4 linked regions of the Homo sapiens genome follow. Changing the gene in region 2 together with the main gene of any one other region gives a genetic interaction. Each region holds a gene or a part of one and is shown on either strand. Other genes may lie near its edges.

Evidence for each region. A genetic interaction does not mean that the proteins touch.
Region 1: changes in MRPL22 (region 2) and SEH1L together harm fitness more than expected from each alone (negative genetic interaction), as found in Homo sapiens cells (one large-scale study listed by BioGRID).
Region 3: changes in MRPL22 (region 2) and ARGLU1 together harm fitness more than expected from each alone (negative genetic interaction), as found in Homo sapiens cells (one large-scale study listed by BioGRID).
Region 4: changes in MRPL22 (region 2) and PGD together harm fitness more than expected from each alone (negative genetic interaction), as found in Homo sapiens cells (one large-scale study listed by BioGRID).

Annotation. Positions count from the first base shown.
Region 1 is NC_000018.10:12,981,733-12,986,267, reverse strand, and holds part of SEH1L (nucleoporin SEH1), read right to left. Parts: intron 3,751-4,535; coding exon 3,593-3,750; intron 2,229-3,592; coding exon 2,078-2,228; intron 1,029-2,077; coding exon of another isoform or gene 1,016-1,028; exon of another isoform or gene 1-1,015. UniProt on the Homo sapiens protein: Component of the Nup107-160 subcomplex of the nuclear pore complex (NPC). The Nup107-160 subcomplex is required for the assembly of a functional NPC.
Region 2 is NC_000005.10:154,957,661-154,962,195, reverse strand, and holds part of MRPL22 (large ribosomal subunit protein uL22m), read right to left. Parts: intron 2,217-4,535; coding exon 2,147-2,216; intron 1-2,146.
Region 3 is NC_000013.11:106,557,881-106,562,415, forward strand, and holds part of ARGLU1 (arginine and glutamate-rich protein 1), read right to left. Parts: intron 1,778-4,535; coding exon 1,552-1,777; intron 1-1,551. UniProt on the Homo sapiens protein: Dual function regulator of gene expression; regulator of transcription and modulator of alternative splicing. General coactivator of nuclear receptor-induced gene expression, including genes activated by the glucocorticoid receptor NR3C1.
Region 4 is NC_000001.11:10,397,146-10,402,120, reverse strand, and holds the start of PGD (6-phosphogluconate dehydrogenase, decarboxylating), read right to left. Parts: upstream 3,058-4,975; 5' UTR 3,004-3,057; coding exon 2,996-3,003; exon of another isoform or gene 2,791-2,995; intron 2,493-2,790; coding exon 2,417-2,492; intron 1,729-2,416; coding exon 1,549-1,728; intron 1-1,548. UniProt on the Homo sapiens protein: Catalyzes the oxidative decarboxylation of 6-phosphogluconate to ribulose 5-phosphate and CO(2), with concomitant reduction of NADP to NADPH.

The sequences.
Region 1 (4,535 bases), on a different chromosome or scaffold from region 2:
CTTCTTCCATCTTGTAACTTACCGATAATACTTACGCATATTAGCAAACTTAAATATTTATAGCTTTGTTATCAAGGTCAGAACTTTACAGGACATGAATTAATTTAAACAGCGAACTAAATTAAGAAAATCTTGAGACATGGAATGCTGACAATTAATTTACATGCACAATTTTAGTAAAATTTTAATGGCTTCTCTTAATAGTGTGTGTCCAAATTTTGATTTGAAGGAAGCTAAGCCATGGAATAAATAACACCATAAAAATACACAAATGTATATAAGAAACATTTATCTCTTTAGTGACTATGAATTAAAAACTTATAAAAAAAGTGTTTCCATCTTAGTCCCAAATTGTAAATGAAACAATACCAAATGCTTAACCTGGCTACAAACTGTACAGTCAAGTTCCTTTCATTTTACTATTACTACTTTATTAATTCACTCCTTTACTAATATTTTTTAAATATTACAAAGAAATGACAGAGTTGTACTGAATATCATGGATAAAGCAAATCTACAAAAAGTAAACAAATCAGCACTCAAAACAATCTTTATAAAAAATATTTATTCAATCTTCAAATTAAAATTATAAAAGTTCATCATTTTAAGCTGTTTTAAGAAAGCAAAAGAAATATGTCTATATTTTCCAAATGAACTAAAGTGGTATTCCCCTCCTCCCAACTACTCAGATAAGAATGGTAACAACCCTTTTAATCTTTAAACCCAAATTAGTTTCAGGAACATTTCAAAAAATTGTTTTGGTGACAATGTCTCAACAGAAAGCCTCTCCGTTTATATTTCAAAAGTTTCAAATAGTGTCAATAAACTGACTAGTACAAAAAATATACACTGTATTTTTAAAGGCCTTTTGGATTGCGTTTAGTAGTAAGCAGGCTGCTGGTGTATCTTGGGAGAGGTCAAACGGCGCTGGGGAAGGGGAAAAGGAGCTCGCTTTCCATTCCTGTGTGCATGCAACAAGCAGCAAAACAGCAAAGTTACTCCAGTTAGCTTGTACTCAGCTGTGCTTTCTGTTAAAGGACATAATACAAATGGAAAAGGGAAAATGCATCACAGATCTAACACAGATGGTTATTGGCACAATAAGAATACAGATCAAAAAATAGAAGCTATTTACAAAAGAAAATATGCAGTACAGGCAGTGACCAAAAACCAGACTTTAAAAAATCAACTCTAATATTATTTGTTTCATGAAATAATCTTTATAATCTGGTATCTTCCACGGTAACCTGAAATTGTTTTGATGCATGTACTTAAAACCTCAAAATCAAAAGCAGAACTTCTTTATGAAAACATAACAATATAAAAATAGTTGAAATTTTAAATACAATTTTCTTCTTTTATATAGGATAACAAGAGGATATAACCACAGGACAATTCATTAGGCTGTGTTTTGACGTTTCCTGAATTCTATTCCAAATTATTCACAAAGGCATATTAAAATAATTTTATCTTACAAATTCACATATTTAAAATTTGAACATGGAAACAGACTCTAGATGACATCAAATATTCCTTATTATGATATACAAGAATGTAACATATGCTAAATATTCTAAAAATCAATCTCGTGTTTTATTATTTCCTCTTATTTCTATTAAAGTTTTAAACACAAAAGCCAAATAACTTAATGTACCCTCTTCTAGAAAGCCTTAAGAAATGTATTTTATTTAAAATTTCAGTTTGACCTAATGCAAAGACCACACTACAAGCACTAAAAAACACTAATGTTCATTTGGACTAAAACTCTCACCATTAAACCAGATAACCTTCCTCTCACTGTTGCGGAAGCAAAGTTGAATCTTAAACCTGTAAACATTTCTACCAATAGACCACTAAAGCTTCAGAATATAATGTAATGACTTCATAACCTACCTGCAAATATTATGACCAAGTAAGCCAAATACATAGCTAACAAAATGAATTCTTAAATGCTAATACAAGCACATGTGAACATTTCCACTCCATCTTATAATCCATGAAATAATCCACCTTAAGTATGGCTACCAGAATGATTTAAAACAAAGATGATTTCCAGTTTTCCCATGAAGCAGCCTACCTGCCAGCAGAAGATCCATTTAATGAATTCTGAAGACTTGGAATAGTTGAACCTAGGGAAGGATTTGAGGTTCCCTGCTGAGAACTCCCATTGACTGGGCTCCCATTACCTTTCAAAATACCAGTACACTTCCAATTGTCCATATAATTAGCTGAAAGGAAAATAATCAAATACATTAACATGATTAATACCAATGCCTAAGGGCACAAATCTGTACCCATGTCCTTAAACTACAATTAAAGAAACGAGACAGAGGCTATGAGCTACATTTCTTTCAGGATAAACATTAAAGACACTTTTTAAATGAAAGACATATTATCTCAGTTTTAACAACTTTTTAGAAGTTTTCAAAGTATCACTAATTTTAAAAATATAAAGCTTTCACCACCCATCTTACAGATACTAGCAAAGACAATTCTCTGAGCTACCACATTATGAAGTTAATATTAAAATCTTCATTATAATATTAAAGTCTTCATTATAATGAATTTCACTTACATATGTATGTAAGGTAATGAAGTTGTCTTCTTAATTATGCAAGTATAAGTTATAAGGGTACCTATCATGTCTTCTGAAATGGATGTAGGTAACAAAACCTTTGGAGCTTCAGTGGCTTATCCAAAATGGCCTTATTAGTTTGAATGAAAAATTGGTCTCTGAAGACAATGAGCCCAAGAAAATCAAGTTAGGCACCCTGCTGGGGAGCATGGCAAGGTGGTCCTGAATAAAGCCTAAAGGCAGAAAAGGACAGCAAAGCCCCTAAAATCAAATTACACTGAGGAAAGGAAGGTCTGGGCTGGTTTTACCAAAGCCCAAAATTGAACATGGGAGGCCCTCAAGCTTACCCAAACTGCACTTTGGGAAACAATAACTGCTAAATGGCAAATAAACAAAGATAGCTATAATTCTGAATGCTAAGTATGGGACACCATTCTATGGTGGTGCACAAATCACAGACATCTCTGCCTAATGGATAATCATCCAAGGAGAAGTGCAGAACCAAGCTACAGAGACCACAGTCAGTGTCAACTGACCAGACCTTCTCACTCAGCCTGGCACTTAGAAGAAACTTACAATCAGGGCCCCCAAGGCTCTTAACTTATGGGAGCTGCAGAGAAGAAGCAGGGAAGATACTGGATTTTCTCCTATTAAGGATGGATTGTCTAAAGCAATTTATTTGATAAAAAAGGAGCCACTACAGTCCTAGCCTGAGTTTGTAGAGCAGTCATGTAAGGTACATATATGACAACTGGTATCTTTTTATTGGAGATATTGCATATTCTGTTGTAATTACTTTAGTTTTGAAAACTGCTCTGTTCCACATAACTTAAAAAACAATTCAGTCATTAACTTCTATGAACTAGGTAAACTGATGTTCAAAATAACATAAATTAATATGACATTAAAAGTAACTGTAAAAGACCATTTTCAAAAAATATTTCAGAGTTTACATTTTAAGTAAAAATTGCAGAGCAGAAATATAAACCAACAATTACCCCTTCACTGAACTCTTACCTTTCCACAATCTTACACACCCATCATCTCCTGAAGATGCTAGCACCGTTCCTGTTATATTCCAACTCACTCGCCAGACCTGAGAATTATGATTATCGAACTGAGCCACTATATGGATTTCAAACTTTGTTGGCCCACCAGAGGAAGTCAGTTCTTTCCTGTTAATAAAAAACATTTTCTGAGGCATTCCAAACAAAGTTTTAAAACATATATATATACACACACATATATATATACACACGTAAAATTCTAAATTAATACAAGTGGTCTCGCCACCACATCACTTTATAATAATGTGCACATCTGCCCAAACCCCACACCTTGGCCCTTGAGCTGGGCCAATGTCATTTTCATTTAACTCGCCAAGACCTGGAGTGATCCCAGCACATAAATGATACTCAGTGACTGTTTCATGGAAGAAAGAAACAACAAAACAGGATGATTTTATTCTCCCACACAAGGCAGAAGAATAAAATAGATGACAATAATTAATTTAAAAAGGCAGGGCAAGGCCAGGTGCAGTTGCTCACACCTGTAATCGCAGCACTTTGGGAGGCCAAGGTGGACAGATCACTTGAGGCCAGGAGTTCAAGACCAGCCTGGCCAACATGGCGAAACCCCATCCCTACTAAAAATACAAAATAAAAAATTAGCCAGGCATGGTGGCGGGCGCCTGTAGTCCCAGCTACTCAGGAGGCTGAGGCATGAGAATTGCTTGAACCTGGGAGGTGGAGGTTGCAGTGAGCCAAGATCAAGCCACTGCCCTCCAGCCTGGGCAACGGAGTGAGACCTTGCCTCAAAAAAAAAAAAAAAAAAAAAAAAAAATGGGCAGGGCAGCAAGTAGGAAAGAATGAAAGAATGGAAAGAAAAGAACTGAAATTCACAATTCAAAATTAAAGTTAAATATGTTATTCACAAGACTGTCTCAATACTAATTTAGTTT
Region 2 (4,535 bases):
ACATCATACTCTTCCTGAGGGAACTCATCTCTTTTGATTATGGAATTAGGCATCAAAATACTTAGTGAATGAAAAATTTTAAAAATCATAATGTAAATCCAAATTTATTAGCCTTACTTAAGTCATCAACACAGAAGTAGATGAAAAGACAGTACAGGTAAGGCAGAGATTTTTCAGCAGAAATGTGCAAAAGAACTCTGGATTAAAGGGTCAGACAATGTGGCTTATGCCCGTAATCCTAACACTTTGGGAGGCTGAGGCAGTAGGACTGCTTGAAGCCAGGAGTTCAAGACCAGCATAGGCATCTAAGCGAGACCTCTGTCTCTACAAAAAATTTTAAAATTAGCTAAGTGTGCTCGTACGTGCCTCTAGTCCCAGCTACTCAGGAGGCTGGGGCAGGAAGATGACTTGAGACCAGGAGTTCAAAGCTGCAGTGAGCTGTGATCACACCACTGCACTCCAGCCTGAGTGACAGAGCAAGTCCTCATCTCCAAAAATAAAAAAAGATAAAATAAAGGGTCATTTATGTAGGATTGGTTAAGCATGTTTTTGCTTAATGGCAACAGTGGACCCTGCTCCTTCATTTGGAGCAACAGGATTAAGCTCTTTATCCTATCTCTCTTTACTATAATTATTGAAAAGGATTTAAAGACAGTTATTGAAAAAGGCTTAAAGACAAATCATATTTCATTTGTATCTGAAGTCCATTAGAAAGTCTATCAGCTACGAATCTCACATCCCTGTGAAACTGCATAAAATTAATTAAATTTGATTTGATATTCAGAGTCACAGAGCAGGAAGAATCACCAAGAGGTTTTAAGCAAATGGTCTTGCTCCTCATCCCTTCCAATGGTTCCAAGACCTCTCCAACATTATTTATTCATAATGCTCCCAGAAGAAAATGCTTATGATTAACTACCATGGCCCTGCATCTTGGGTTGCCATTTTGATTTCCCTTTGCATCTTTGCATGTATCAAAATAAAATTATACAAGATTCAGCTTTAAAATAAAGCATTTCAACTGAAAATCAACTAATTTGAATTTCAGGAGGTGTGGTGGCCAACATCAATGCCAGGTGAGTTGAACTGAGATTTTAACCTAATCAGCACAGAGGCTATGTGAAAAAGTAGAATTTAGATAATTTTTTTTTTACTCTAATTGTTGAAAAATTATAAAATACAACTAATTCCCCCTGTATTGATTCAGCCCTTTCTCCTCCATCTGGAGAGTAGATGTTCCCCATATCTTGAATTTAAAATAGCTTTAAGTAAAATAATCTTTATATGTTGGTATGGCAGATTGAGAAAACTTTGCTTCAACATCAACATCTTTGTTTGAATATAAAACTGCTGAGGTTAGGAGTAATTGCTGTAGTGAGAAAAAAATAATAACTCCAACCACTGCTCCACTTTCCCATGGTGTTGGGAGGAGGCAAGAGAGCTTTGTAATAAACATTAATCTCCTTCTCAGAAAATAACTGTGTGACGGTCTGCAGCAAAAAGATTCCTTACATTTGTACAGCACATCATGCTTCCCAAAGCATTTTAACTTATATTAATTTAATTTGATGTGGAACAAGCATGTAAAAGCAGAGCTAATGCTTCAGGATGTAGTAACAAAGTGGAACAAACACATCTGGGTCATCTGAGCCTTCCAAGGCCCCTTGGCTTTTACAATTCAACAGACCTTCCATTTTGATAACTGTAAGGTTAAATTACAGGACACCTTTATGGATTAGGCATCTGGCTTGGCACATTATAAATAAAAATTTTTTAAATGCACCTGTGATTATTTACCTCCTTCTGGTTGACAAACAACTTTAAAAATGTGTTAATACTATTTGTTATAATATTACAATTAAAGTACCACTCTATGTACCCCAGTCTTGGTATCTATTATTTAATAATTATTAGCAATTGGCTTTATGATCTCAGTCTCACTACAGAACAGGTAAAACAGTACAGTTATTGTCATTTACACTAAATTAAAATTGGCATGCATACAGCTGAAGAATAAGCCATTACTAGCAATTTTCACTGACAAACCAAGTCCTGAGGAGTTAGATATTAAAGACTGTTGTTAGATAAAAAACATGGCATTACTACTGAAGACATTTTCTAATGCTAAGAATATTAAAAATCTTACCTATATATAAATTGGACCTGAATTCCACGTTATGGTCTCTCACTGCCATATCTTGTGCTTCTAAGAGAACCTTAAATAAGAAAAAGAAAAGCATTTATACGGCTAAACCTGAAGTAAAATGGAATTAAGTTTCTCATCTCTCATTATCTCTGTACTATGACTGCTAATCACATGCTTCCATAGTCAATTTTAAAAAGACAATATCAAATGATAAGAGTACAAAGGAGAAGGGAGCTTTCCTGCCTTAGACCAAGAAGTGTAAATGCATAGAACACAGCCCATCCTACTAAGTTTTAAATGACATGTGTAAGCTATAAAGGAGATAGCGGTGCTTGTAAGCAGTACCCTTGGGAAGGAACATTATGTCTTTGAGTCAGAAACTTGTCAAAAAGTTCCCAAGGCCAGATGCAGTGGTTCACATGTCCATGGTCCCAGTACTTCGGGAGGCCAAGATGGGATGGGCAGACCACATGAGGCCAGGAGTTTGAGACCAGCCTGGCAAACATGTCAAAACCCCGCCTCTACTAAAAACACAAAAATCAGCCAGGTGTGGTAACACATACCTCTAATCCTAGCTATGTGGAAGGCTGAGGCTGGAGGATCACTTGAACCCAGGAGGTGGAGGCTGCAGTGAGCCAAGATTGTACCACTGCACTCCAGCCTGGGCAACAGAGACCCTATCTTAAAAAACAAACACGAAGTTCATGAAACTCAATAGCTTAATCTTACTGAAAAGTCTTAGCTGGGATGGTGGCTCATGCTTATAATCCCAGCACTTTGGGAGGCTGAGGCAGGAGGATCCCTTGAGGCCAGGAGTTCGAGACCAGCCCATCTCTACAAAAGTGAAAAATTTGCTGGACGTGGTGGCACACACCTGCAGTTCCAGCTATTTGGGAAGCTGAAGGACGAAAATCCCTTGAGCTCAGGAAGTTAAAGCTGCAGTGAGCTGTGATCATGCCACTATACTCCAGCCCTGGGCAATGGAGTGACACCCTGCCTCTAAAAAAACAAAAATCTAATTAAAAACTAGAATAAAATAAAAATTCTTAAACTTTGGATGCAAATAACCATTAACATCAGACAAGTAGAGAAAATCACACTTGATATAATAATTTCCTTGAAGAGGTTAATTATCAAATTTACTCTCCATAGATATTTTGAATTAACTTCCTCCAGAACACATTTTTGTAAAAATATGACAATTGGGCCAGGCATAGTGGCTCTCGCCTGTAATCCCAGCACTTTGGCAGGCCGAGGTGGGCAGATCATGAGGTCAAGAGATTGAGACCATCCTGGCCAACATGGTGAAATCCCATCTCTACTAAAAATACAAAAATATTAGCTGGACGTGGTGGCACACATCTGTAGTCCCAGCTACTCGGTAGGCTGAGGTAGTAGAATCGCTTGAACCCAGGAGGTGGAGTTTACAGTGAGCGGAGATGGCGCCACTGTACTCCAGCCTGGGCGACAGGGCGAGGCTCCATCTCAAAAAAAAAAAAAAAAAAAAAAAAGACAATTGTCAGAAATAACAGAAACCAAATCTTTCACGCCTTAAAAGATAAAGAATGTAGTACAAGGCTGGGTACACAACAAACACTTGTAAATGCATTCTGAATTGAATATAGCAAAATCAAAGCATTACAAAGGAACCCTTTAGAAGTCTGAATCTATCAATCTCAACTATTTACCTATTACTACTAAACTGAAAGGTATGAACTGACTTTTGGTGAGAATTAACTGAATATATAGAAAACAATGCTGATAGCCCCAGATGGTAACGGACAATAATCAATACAACTTTTTGAAAAAAGAATATTAAAAAAGAAAAATAGGCCAGGCGCGGTGGCTCACGCCTGTAATCCCAGCACTTTGGGAGGCTGAGGTGGGCGGATCGCCTGAGGTCAGGAGTTCAAGACCAGCCTGGCCAATATGGTGAAATCCCATCTCTACTAAAAATACAAAAATATTAGCCGCGTATGGTGGCGCGCAGCTGTAGTCCCAGCTACTCGGGAGGCTGAGGCAGAAGAATCGCTTGAACGCAGGAGGCGGAGACTGCAGTGAGCCAAGATGGCGCCACTGCACCCCAGCCTGTGCAACAGAGCTAGACTCCGTCTCAAAAAAAAAAAAAAAAAAAAGAAAAATATATGTAATAAAAAAAGAATATTCATGTTCCTAGAAAGAGTCACCACAATTACCATCAGCACATTTGTATCTAGTGAATTAGCTACATTTAGAGTTGGAAGGATCTTTAGGGGTCATCTAATCCAATTCCACATAGTTTAGGTGAGAAAAATAGAAACTGACTGGTTAAGTGTCTTGCCCACGGTCACAAGAAAAAGATCAGAGAAAGGACTAGAGTCCAAGTCTCTTGAGTTCCAGTCCAGGGCTC
Region 3 (4,535 bases), on a different chromosome or scaffold from region 2:
TGACAATTTCGGAAGGCAGCTTATATTGTCATCTACAATCTGAACTGAAACTCAGAAATCCAGGGGATGCATGGTCAGGAAATAAAATTCTTCAACTTATTTTTTCTTGGAGAATTTAATGAGATTTTATAATGCAAACTGTATGAAGACTGCTTGATGGCTTGAGCAGTGTTCAGATCACAGCATACATATTCAAATGATTTTAATATTTGGAAAGACTGTCAGAGGGTTGTGTCCGTGTAAAAAAAAAATTGTTAATATGAAACAAAAAAAGCAAATGAAGAGAAAAAAATCTTACTATGATTAATAACTCGCTACAAGACAGCACCATTACTCCAAAAATATCTTCATTATTAAAAGCACTGATATAAATAAAAATTTCATACATTCAATTTTATAGTCTGTGAAACCCACTATAAATATAAGCATGTATATCTAGTTAAAGACAGGACAAGGGAAAATGCATTTTAAAAGCTAAGCTTACCAGAAAGCAAAGAGATTTAATATGTCAACTTGTCCACAATAATGCCAAGATGAAAAATGACAATGAGTCTTAATTATTTTGAGTCAAATATTTCAGTTCAAGAAAATACAACTACAGGATTTCCTACATCACACACCAATGGGATTCATATTCATTATGCAAACTATGGTGACAGACACTCAGGGCTGTAAAGTAATTTGCCTTGAGTGTTTCAGTGACTTTCACCAAGTTTTTGGATCCTGGAGTAATCAGTGCAAACAAGCCATAAAGCTTCAGTAGCAAATTACTGTCTCACAGAAAGACATTTTCAACTTCTGCTCCAGCTGCTGATAAAACAAATCATGTGTTTAGCTTGACTCCAGACAAGGACAACCTGTTCCTTCATAACTCTCTAGAGAAAAAAAGGAGTTGTTAGTAGATACTAAAAAAAGTGGATGAATAATCTGGATATTTTTCCTAAAAAGATTCCTTGAAACACATTAGGAAAATGGAGGGCCTTATGATCAGAATGCTAGAATTAGTCCATTGTGCTGAAGCAGGGTTTAGGGGAGGGAGTGAGGGATAAAAGAAGGAAAAAAAGAAGAGTGAGAAAACCTATTTATCAAAGCAGGTGCTATCACTCAATGTTAGGCCCTGCTCTTTTTAATCTGACTGAAGGCAAAAGCCTCTCACAGTCTAGGTAACAGAGTGACAGAATAGAAGAATATACAACCACAGGTGGATTTTTAACCTTTTCCCTTTACCACTCCCTGTCTCCCCACCGTCCTCCCAAAAAAGAATGTAAGTCCTGCAGCCATGGCAAAAGTTTCAAACACTTCTCAAATAGCCAGTTCCATTAAATCAAAAAGTATCCTTGAATATGTTTTATAAAAGCTTCCAACTTTTAAGTTATCAGTCAGCACTTCTGAATAGGCTAAAAAATTAACTTTCGCAGCAATGTTAAGTTTAGACGAGAAAGGAATTAGATAGTCTGTATTCCATCTCTTTCTGAACTGAGCAGGAGGCAGAACCCAACACTGAAAGTTTTGCCATGGACTGTCTCTACTTTCCAAACGACCGAGCGTTACCTCTCTAGCTTTTTGTGCGGCAAGCTCAGCTTGTCTCTGTCGCTCGAGTTCTTCGAGCAACTGCTTTTCCATGATGCGTTTGGCTTCCTCCACCCTTCGGAGAACTTCTCGTTCAATTTCATCCTTCCTTTTCTCCAGTTCTTCCTCCACCCTTTTTGCTACCAATTCTTCTACTCTTCGTGCTGTTTCTTCCTCGATGAGTTTTTCTTCTATTTCTTGCTGTCGACTAGCAAACAAAGTGAAAAAAACAAGTTAGGTATTTACTTTTAAAACTATAAATTTAAACAAAACTAGTTTTAAGTCTATCAAGCCATTGAGCCTGATATTATTCAGTGATTTTTTCAGAATTCATTTCCATGTCACATTTGAGGAAATGACAGATACCAAGATGTTAACTGATACAGAAATTCAAATGAGTATAAAATCTTTTTTTCCTTTATCATATTCTAAATACAGGAGAACAGGTATATACAAAGAGCCTAATTCATTAGTTCTAATTTAGGAACAATAAATCCGGACAGAAAACCTATTCTGTTATTGACTTTATAATCAGAGGACAAGTTGTTAAAACATATGGATTTGCTCATTTGCCAATCACTTCGTCTGGGGCTGAGCTACAGAGAAGGAGAAATTATGTAGCAGGCAACTCAGATTGGCTGAATTGATTTCCCGCTAAGCAAAGAGAGAATAAATACAGATTGAAGAGATTCAGATTGCTGGACTAATAGTGCGTAGTTTTTACTGAAAATATGACCAACTTAAGTTTTGAACTGAAGTTCTTTAGCTTTATAGTTCCTTACTATGTCTTTTCTTCCTTTTGTTAATTTTCAATTAAAAGCTCCTCTAGAAATGGGAAAGTGGGTAAAAATATATTTTTATTACCAGAAAAAGTTCAATAAAGCATGATACTACAGTTTTAATTACTCCAATCCCATTTTGATATTATAAACCAATTTACTCAAAATAAAATTCTGTGCTGAAATTACTGACATTCATCAAGGCACCACTGGAAATCCTGCACATTTCATACCAATGATATTCAGTGACAGCCACCAGTCATATGTGTCTGGTCCAAACTGAAATTTAGTATGAAGAAAAAGAATATAAATGATCTCCTATTTTTATTTGATTGCGTGTTAAAATGATATTTTGGATAAAAATATACAATAAAATTAATTTCATCCATTTCTTAAGGTTACTAAAAAAATTTTACATTGCATATATTGTTCATACTATTTCTAGTTAATAGCACTGAGACAATAATTTGTGCTGAATGAATAAATTCTGAGGCTCTTGCAGTAAATCTCAATCCTAAGAGGACGATTCATGTTCCAACTTTCTCAAAATTAAATAAAACCTGCAACCTTTATCTTTTGATCACTCATTTGACATCCATATATATGAGAATCATTCAATTTATCTGTTTAGTAAAGACTTTATAGTTTCTAAGTGACCTTTAAATACCCCAATCCACTTCAACTCAACTCTATTCTTCGGGATGATTCAATTCTCACCCAAGGGCTCTCATTTTCAACTCCTGTTACTTATTCAGTGATAACACACTAACACCAATGTGTCTTAATCTGATTCATTTCAGTTTCTACATTTATCCTCTACATTCTTCTGTCAAGGAGACAGTAGGTACTAGAGAAAGAATATTTTCCTTTAAGGGCCTAGATGTTTGCCCAACACTCATTCTCAGGACTTTGTTGTTTGAAGTCTTTATCTACAGCAGCTCAGTGAGAGAGCAGGTATCTTCCCCAATACTAAAAAAAATCAATCACTGGGAGCATATAAAAGGAAACCAGACAGCAACTTCAATAGAAATTAAATCACATTTCCATATAAAATGTTGTTTCTCTACTTCACCCAAAAGGAAAGAAAACTAATCAATGAAACAAGGCTGACAACTGTTGAATCTGGATAATGAGTACCCAAGAATAATAATAATAATCTGCCTTTGTGAATATGTAAATTTCTCATAATAAAGTGTACACACACACACACACACACACACACACACACACACACTTTTGCTAGTTGGTTCTTCTGAAATTAGTAAATGTAGAGAAGCCTAAGAAGAAACTTAATATTTAAAATTTCAAAACCGGTACAATGTGACTTTTAATTAACAATACTAGGTGGATCATAGTACCGACTATTAAAAAAAAGGATAATGTAACACAGTTCCAATTAAAATTCCACACAAAGTAGAAAGAAGGCCCTAGGAGTAAAAAGTTGCCATCTTAAGAATTTGGTGAAGGCAGAAGAGACCTGATACACACTCAAGGTTATTTTTGGCAGTCAAGCCATCCCTCAGCAAAAGCGCAGTGGCTAACAGGGCCTCATTTCCATAGCTTTGGTCAGTAAGGAGAAAATGAGCCAAATAAATTTACTTACAGCAAATGCCAAATCAGAATGTCAGTTCCCTGCTTCTATTTCCACTGATGACATCAAACCAGAGGGCCCATGTAACAGGCAGTACAGGCAGGCCGTGGGCTGCTCCGCTGCTAAGGAGTCAATTCTAACTACAGCTCAGCGACTTTATAGCCCAAAGGGAGGGCAAGTGGAAAGTCCCACGCTCAACTGAAACACTGGAGAATGAGAAATGACCTAGTGCAGTTTCTCACAAAGCTGCTTATCTCCCTTTGTTCCTGGAGGAACTGCAAGGCATCCCAATATGAAAATGAAGCTTTGCAACAGGCAGGGTTCAGGGTACCACAGCAAAACTGTTTGCCTGCAAGTGTTAGCAAGAATATAATTTCTGCTGTTTTTCTTGGTAAAATTAAAAATGCTACTTCAGTAATCAGAAAAAAATTTTAAATCAAATTTTAGAAACAATGCTGAAGGAAAGCTCAATTTTATCCCCTCACCATACACTGAATTCAGCAAACCAGTGAGCACATATACAACTGAATTAAGCATGAGTTCATCTTTACTGATGGCAAATTTATCATCATAATCAATGATAAAACCACTATTAT
Region 4 (4,975 bases), on a different chromosome or scaffold from region 2:
GAGACAGAGCCTTGAACATGAATATCTACCTACAGCACACCAACCAGGCTGGGCTTTATTATTATTATTACTTTATTAATTAATTAATTAATTTATTTATTTATTTGAGACGGAGTCTCGCACTGTCACCCAGGCTGCAATGCAGTGGTGTGATCTCGGCTCACTGCAAGCTCTGCCTCCCGGGTTCACGCCACTCTCCTGCCTCAGCCTCCCAAGTAGCTGGGACTACAGGCACCCACCACCACGCCTGGCTAATTTTTTGTATTTTTAGTAGAGATGGGGTTTCACCGTGTTAGCTAGGATGGTCTCGATCTCCTGACCTCATGATCCACCCACCTCTGCCTCCCAAAGTGCTGGGATTACAGGCGTGAGCCACCGCGCCCAGCCTGGGCTTCATTATATTATTCAATCTTCCCCCTACAAGGCTCCAGTTAACATTACTTAGTATTTTCCTATACTGAAGAATAATCCACCATTTTTCAGTTTTCTCTGTCTGAAACTGATTACAGGCAGCTTGCCACACAAAAAATTTAGTATGTCCTTTTTTTAAACTCAGTGTTCTTCCTTTCTAGGTCATTTGATTGAAAAACAGTGGCATACTGGTTACAAATCCTTCTCCCTGTGGAAACAACCCCACTGTTGACACGACTCCTCTAGAAAGGAATGCTCAGCCTCCCCTGAGCTATCACTGCACTGCTTACAGCAAAACATTTCTTCTAAATGGGAGTGCCTGGGTTTTTTCAGAGTTGTTACTATAGAATTATTTTGGGTATCTAAACACATTATTTCCACTGGTTCCCCTACTTTTTTCTTCCAAAAAAGATATACCTGCTAAAGCCAACAAATTGTTTGGTACAAAAATAAGCATCCAGTTCCCTAGGATTCCCTAAGGAGATCTTGATTTTATTTTCATTTTTTTTTTGAGACGGAGTCTCGCTCTGTCGCCAAACTGGAGTGGCACAATCTCAGGTCACTGTAACCTCCACCTCCCAGGTTCAAGTGATTCTCATTCCTCAGCCTCCCGAGTAACTGGGATTACAGGCATGAGCCACAAAGCCCAGCTAATTTTTATATTTTTAGTAGAGACGGGGTTTCACCATGTTGGCCAGGCTGGTCTCGAACCTGGGACCATAAGCTTGTAGCTGGGACCATAAGCTTACACCACCATACCCAGCTAATTTTTTAATTTTATGTAGAGACAGGGTTTCGCCATGTTGCCCAGGCTGGTCTCGAACTCCTGGGCTCAAACGATCCATCTGAACCAGCCTCCCAAAAAGTGCTGGGATTACAGGCCTGAGCCACTGTGCCCCGCCTTAATGTTTATTGAAATGTCTGTTAGTATTCTCAGAATTACTACCACCAAAGGACAAAGTTACTTCATAAGCGCTTATCAAGTTAACCAACACTGCAACAGTTAAGCAATCATTTGGTCAGAGCTTAGCAGAAATTGAAAAAAAAAAATCTCTAGAGTTAAAAGAAGGAGAACTAAAGGAAGAAACCAAAAACAGCTGCTATCGTGGTAGCAGCTGAGAGCACAGCTGGCCTCACCAATTTCTCGATGAAATCATCCACAGCTTGCCCAGCCTTCACCAGGAGGATGATCCGCCGGGGCTTCTTCAGCTTGGAGACCATCTCTTTCAGGGACTGGGCACCCACCACTTTGGTTCCCTTTGCCTCATTGGCCAAGAAATCATCAACTTTGGAGACAGTCCTATTAAAAGCACAGACCTAGAAGGACAAAAGTCCTGAGTAGGAGATCCAGGACACACAAGACTTTCAGACTGTGGCCAAAGTAACAATGACCTTTCCATTCAACCCAAGTTCTGGGGAGGTCAGACCTGCCTTTGCCTTTTCTTCCCCCAGCTGTGGGAGGCTCACTGTAAAGTTATGTCACCTCAGTAGGATGAAAACGGCGGACAACCGAGGCGAAGGCCAACTACCCCCGGTGTGTCAGGTAGAATCCACACCCAACGTGTTAGGACTCAAAATCAAATCCAGGAACTGGCCGGTTCAACAGGCTCTATCTGTTGTTATTGATCATCCTGGCGTCTAAGCCACTTTAACATTTAGAAGAAACATTTTCACTCTCCCCAGATCTCATCAGGCAATCAAGTTAGAGCTCTACACAGCCAGCAAGGGTTCTCCTCCCGCACCCTTCTTCTCTACTTAAGACACTAATTCGTTCATTCGGGCTGTGAACCTCACGGACCCACAGGCACACTCCGCAGGACTAAGTTCGGGATCGGCCCGCCCACGCCTACAGGGTGCTTCTCCTTTCCATACAAAAATGCCACGAGCAGCAACAGAGCACATTAGCAAAGCACGGCCAGGAGACCCGTAAGCTCCCAAACCTATCGCCGGCCTCGGCTAAAGCGCCCGGGAACCAGAGAGAAGACAACGCGCCCACGCCGCTTACCACAAAGCCGTGGTCATTCATGTTCAGAATTAAGTTCTGGCCCATGACGGCCAATCCGATCAGCGCGATGTCAGCTCTAGAGAGGCAGAAACAGAACAAAGGAAAGAGTCAGCACCGCTCGACGCGCTGCAACCCAGGGGTCCGGTCCTTCCACATTTGGCCGTGACTGGGAGTCTGCACTTTCCTCCGCGCCTCCCGCGGGCCCCCAGAAGCCGGGCGCGCACGCTGCAGAGCCTCGGCCGGGCAGGCGGCCCCCAGCCCCGCCCTCGCGCCCGGCTCCCGCTGGCACGCGTCCCGCAGGTGTCCCTGCAGACTCGGCGAGGCCTGGCCGCGCCTCCTCCCTGGCCCTCGAAGGGACCCGCCCCGCCCCATGCCTGCGCGGCCGAGAGGGCAGGGGGCCGGGCCCGCAGGGAAGGAGCTCTGGGCCCGAGACGCCGTAGGGCCAGGGTCACAGAGCCCCAAGTGAGCTCAGGCGACCCCCAGGGTGGGAGGCGTCGGAGAGAACGAGGGAGATCTCGACCCCCAAAGAGTTCCCCGCCCGCTGAGGCCGAGCCGGGCTGCCCCTGGCGAGTCACTCACTGGGCCATGGCGGCGGACAGAGCAGAACCGAAGAGCGGCGACGCGCGGAGGACGAGTGAGGGAAAGACCCGCAGCGGCTCCCTCCAGAAACTGCGGCCGCTCACGCCCGGCTTTTCGGCGCCGGCCAATCGAATGGAAGGGGGTGGAGCCATGAAGCCACACCATTGGCTCTCCCCGACGCCTGTTAGACCATCCGAGGCAAACGTGCCCGCCCACCCCCGGGGGCCGGATCAGTGGAGCGCCGAGCACCTAGATGACATTGCCCCGGCGAGGCTCCGGGCTCCCCGCCCACGCGCAGAGCTTTCCGCTCGTCCCAGCTGCACCTCGGTCCTGCAGGCCGTCCGCCTGGCGCAGCTGTAGCCATAGCAACTCACGCAGGACCGCGCTTTACAGTTTACCAGGCACTCGGACGCCTTTGGCGCGAGCGCCCGTCGCTCCTTCCTCAGGTCACTGCGGTGCACCGTGCGGGTCCGCGTCGTGTCCTCCGCTCCGGAGCAGGGACCGGGCGTGCTCGTTCAGTCCTGTGCGCACTCGGAATGGGGCCGGGGAAGGCTGAGCCTCAGGGCGACCCTGATGTGGAGCCGTGCGACCGCTCACTGCGGTTGAAGAGACCCAGGCGCAGACAGCGCAGGCGGGGTATGTATTGGTTGGAGTATGATGGGGTCAGGACTTGAGTCTTTTACCCAGGCCCGGAGTTAACGGTATTGAACCCCTTCTCATTTTGTAGAGGCTATGTGACCCGCGAGATGGACCAGGTTAAATGCAGAGGCAGATACAAAAAACCAGCCATCTTAAGCCAGACATTTGCAAAGTAGCCAAGCAGCGCTTCTTATCTTACTGAGTCCCTTCTTGCTAGGAGGAAATTGTTATTCAGAAGTTTGAGTTTTAGATTTTTTTTGTTTTTTTTGAGACGGAGTCTCGCACTGTCGCCCGGGCTGGAATGCAGTGGTGTGATCTCAGCTCACTGCACCTTCCGCCTCCCGGGTTCAAGCAATTTTCCTGCCTCAGCCTCCCAAGTAGCTGGGATTACAGGCGCCCGCCACCACGCCCAGCTAATTTTTGTATTTTTAGTAGAGATGGGGTTTCACCATCTTGGCCAGGCTGGTCTCAAACTCCTGACCTCGTGATCCGCCCGCCTTGGCCTCCCAAAGTGCTGAGATTACCGGCGTGAGCCACCGTGCCCGGCCTTTTTTTGATGTCATTGTTGAGATGGAGTCTGGCTGTGTCTCCAGGCTGGAGGGCAGTGGCGCGATCTGGGCTCACTGCAACCTCCACCTCCCAGGTTCAAGCGATTCTCCTGCCTCAGCCTCCCAAGTAGCTGGGACTACAGGTGTGTGCCACCATGCCCAGCTAATGTTTTTATTTTTAGTAGAGACAGGGTTTCACCATGTTGGCCAGGCTGGTCTCGAACTCCTAACCTCAAGTGATCCACCCACCTCAGCCTCCCAAAGTTCTGGGATTAGAGGTGTGAGCCACTGTGCCCGGCCGGTTTTTAATTTTTATAAAGACCAGGTCTTTGCTCTGTTGCCCAGGCTGGAGTGCAGTGGCATGACCATAGCTTACTGCAGCCTTGAACTCCTGAGGTCGAGCAATCTTCTAGCCTCAACTTCCTGAGTAGCTAGGACTACAGGCATGCAACACCATGCCCGGCTAAGACATCCTACTTTAAAATATGTCAAACTTCACAGCACAGTTCTTTTTTTAAAATACAGATTTAATGAGATAATTTACATGTCATACAATTCAAACATTGTAAGTACACATTTGGATGACCTTTAATTTATACTGTTGTGTAGCCATCACCATAATCCACTTATAGAAAACTTCCATCACCCCAAAACGTTCCCTTGGGCCTATTTGTAGTCAGTCTCTGCTCTCACCCCCAGCCAACCTCTGATCTACTTTGCATGGTTTTTGCCTTTTCCAGAAATTTCATAGAAATGGAATAATAGCATATAATTTTTTTGGTCTGGCTTCTTT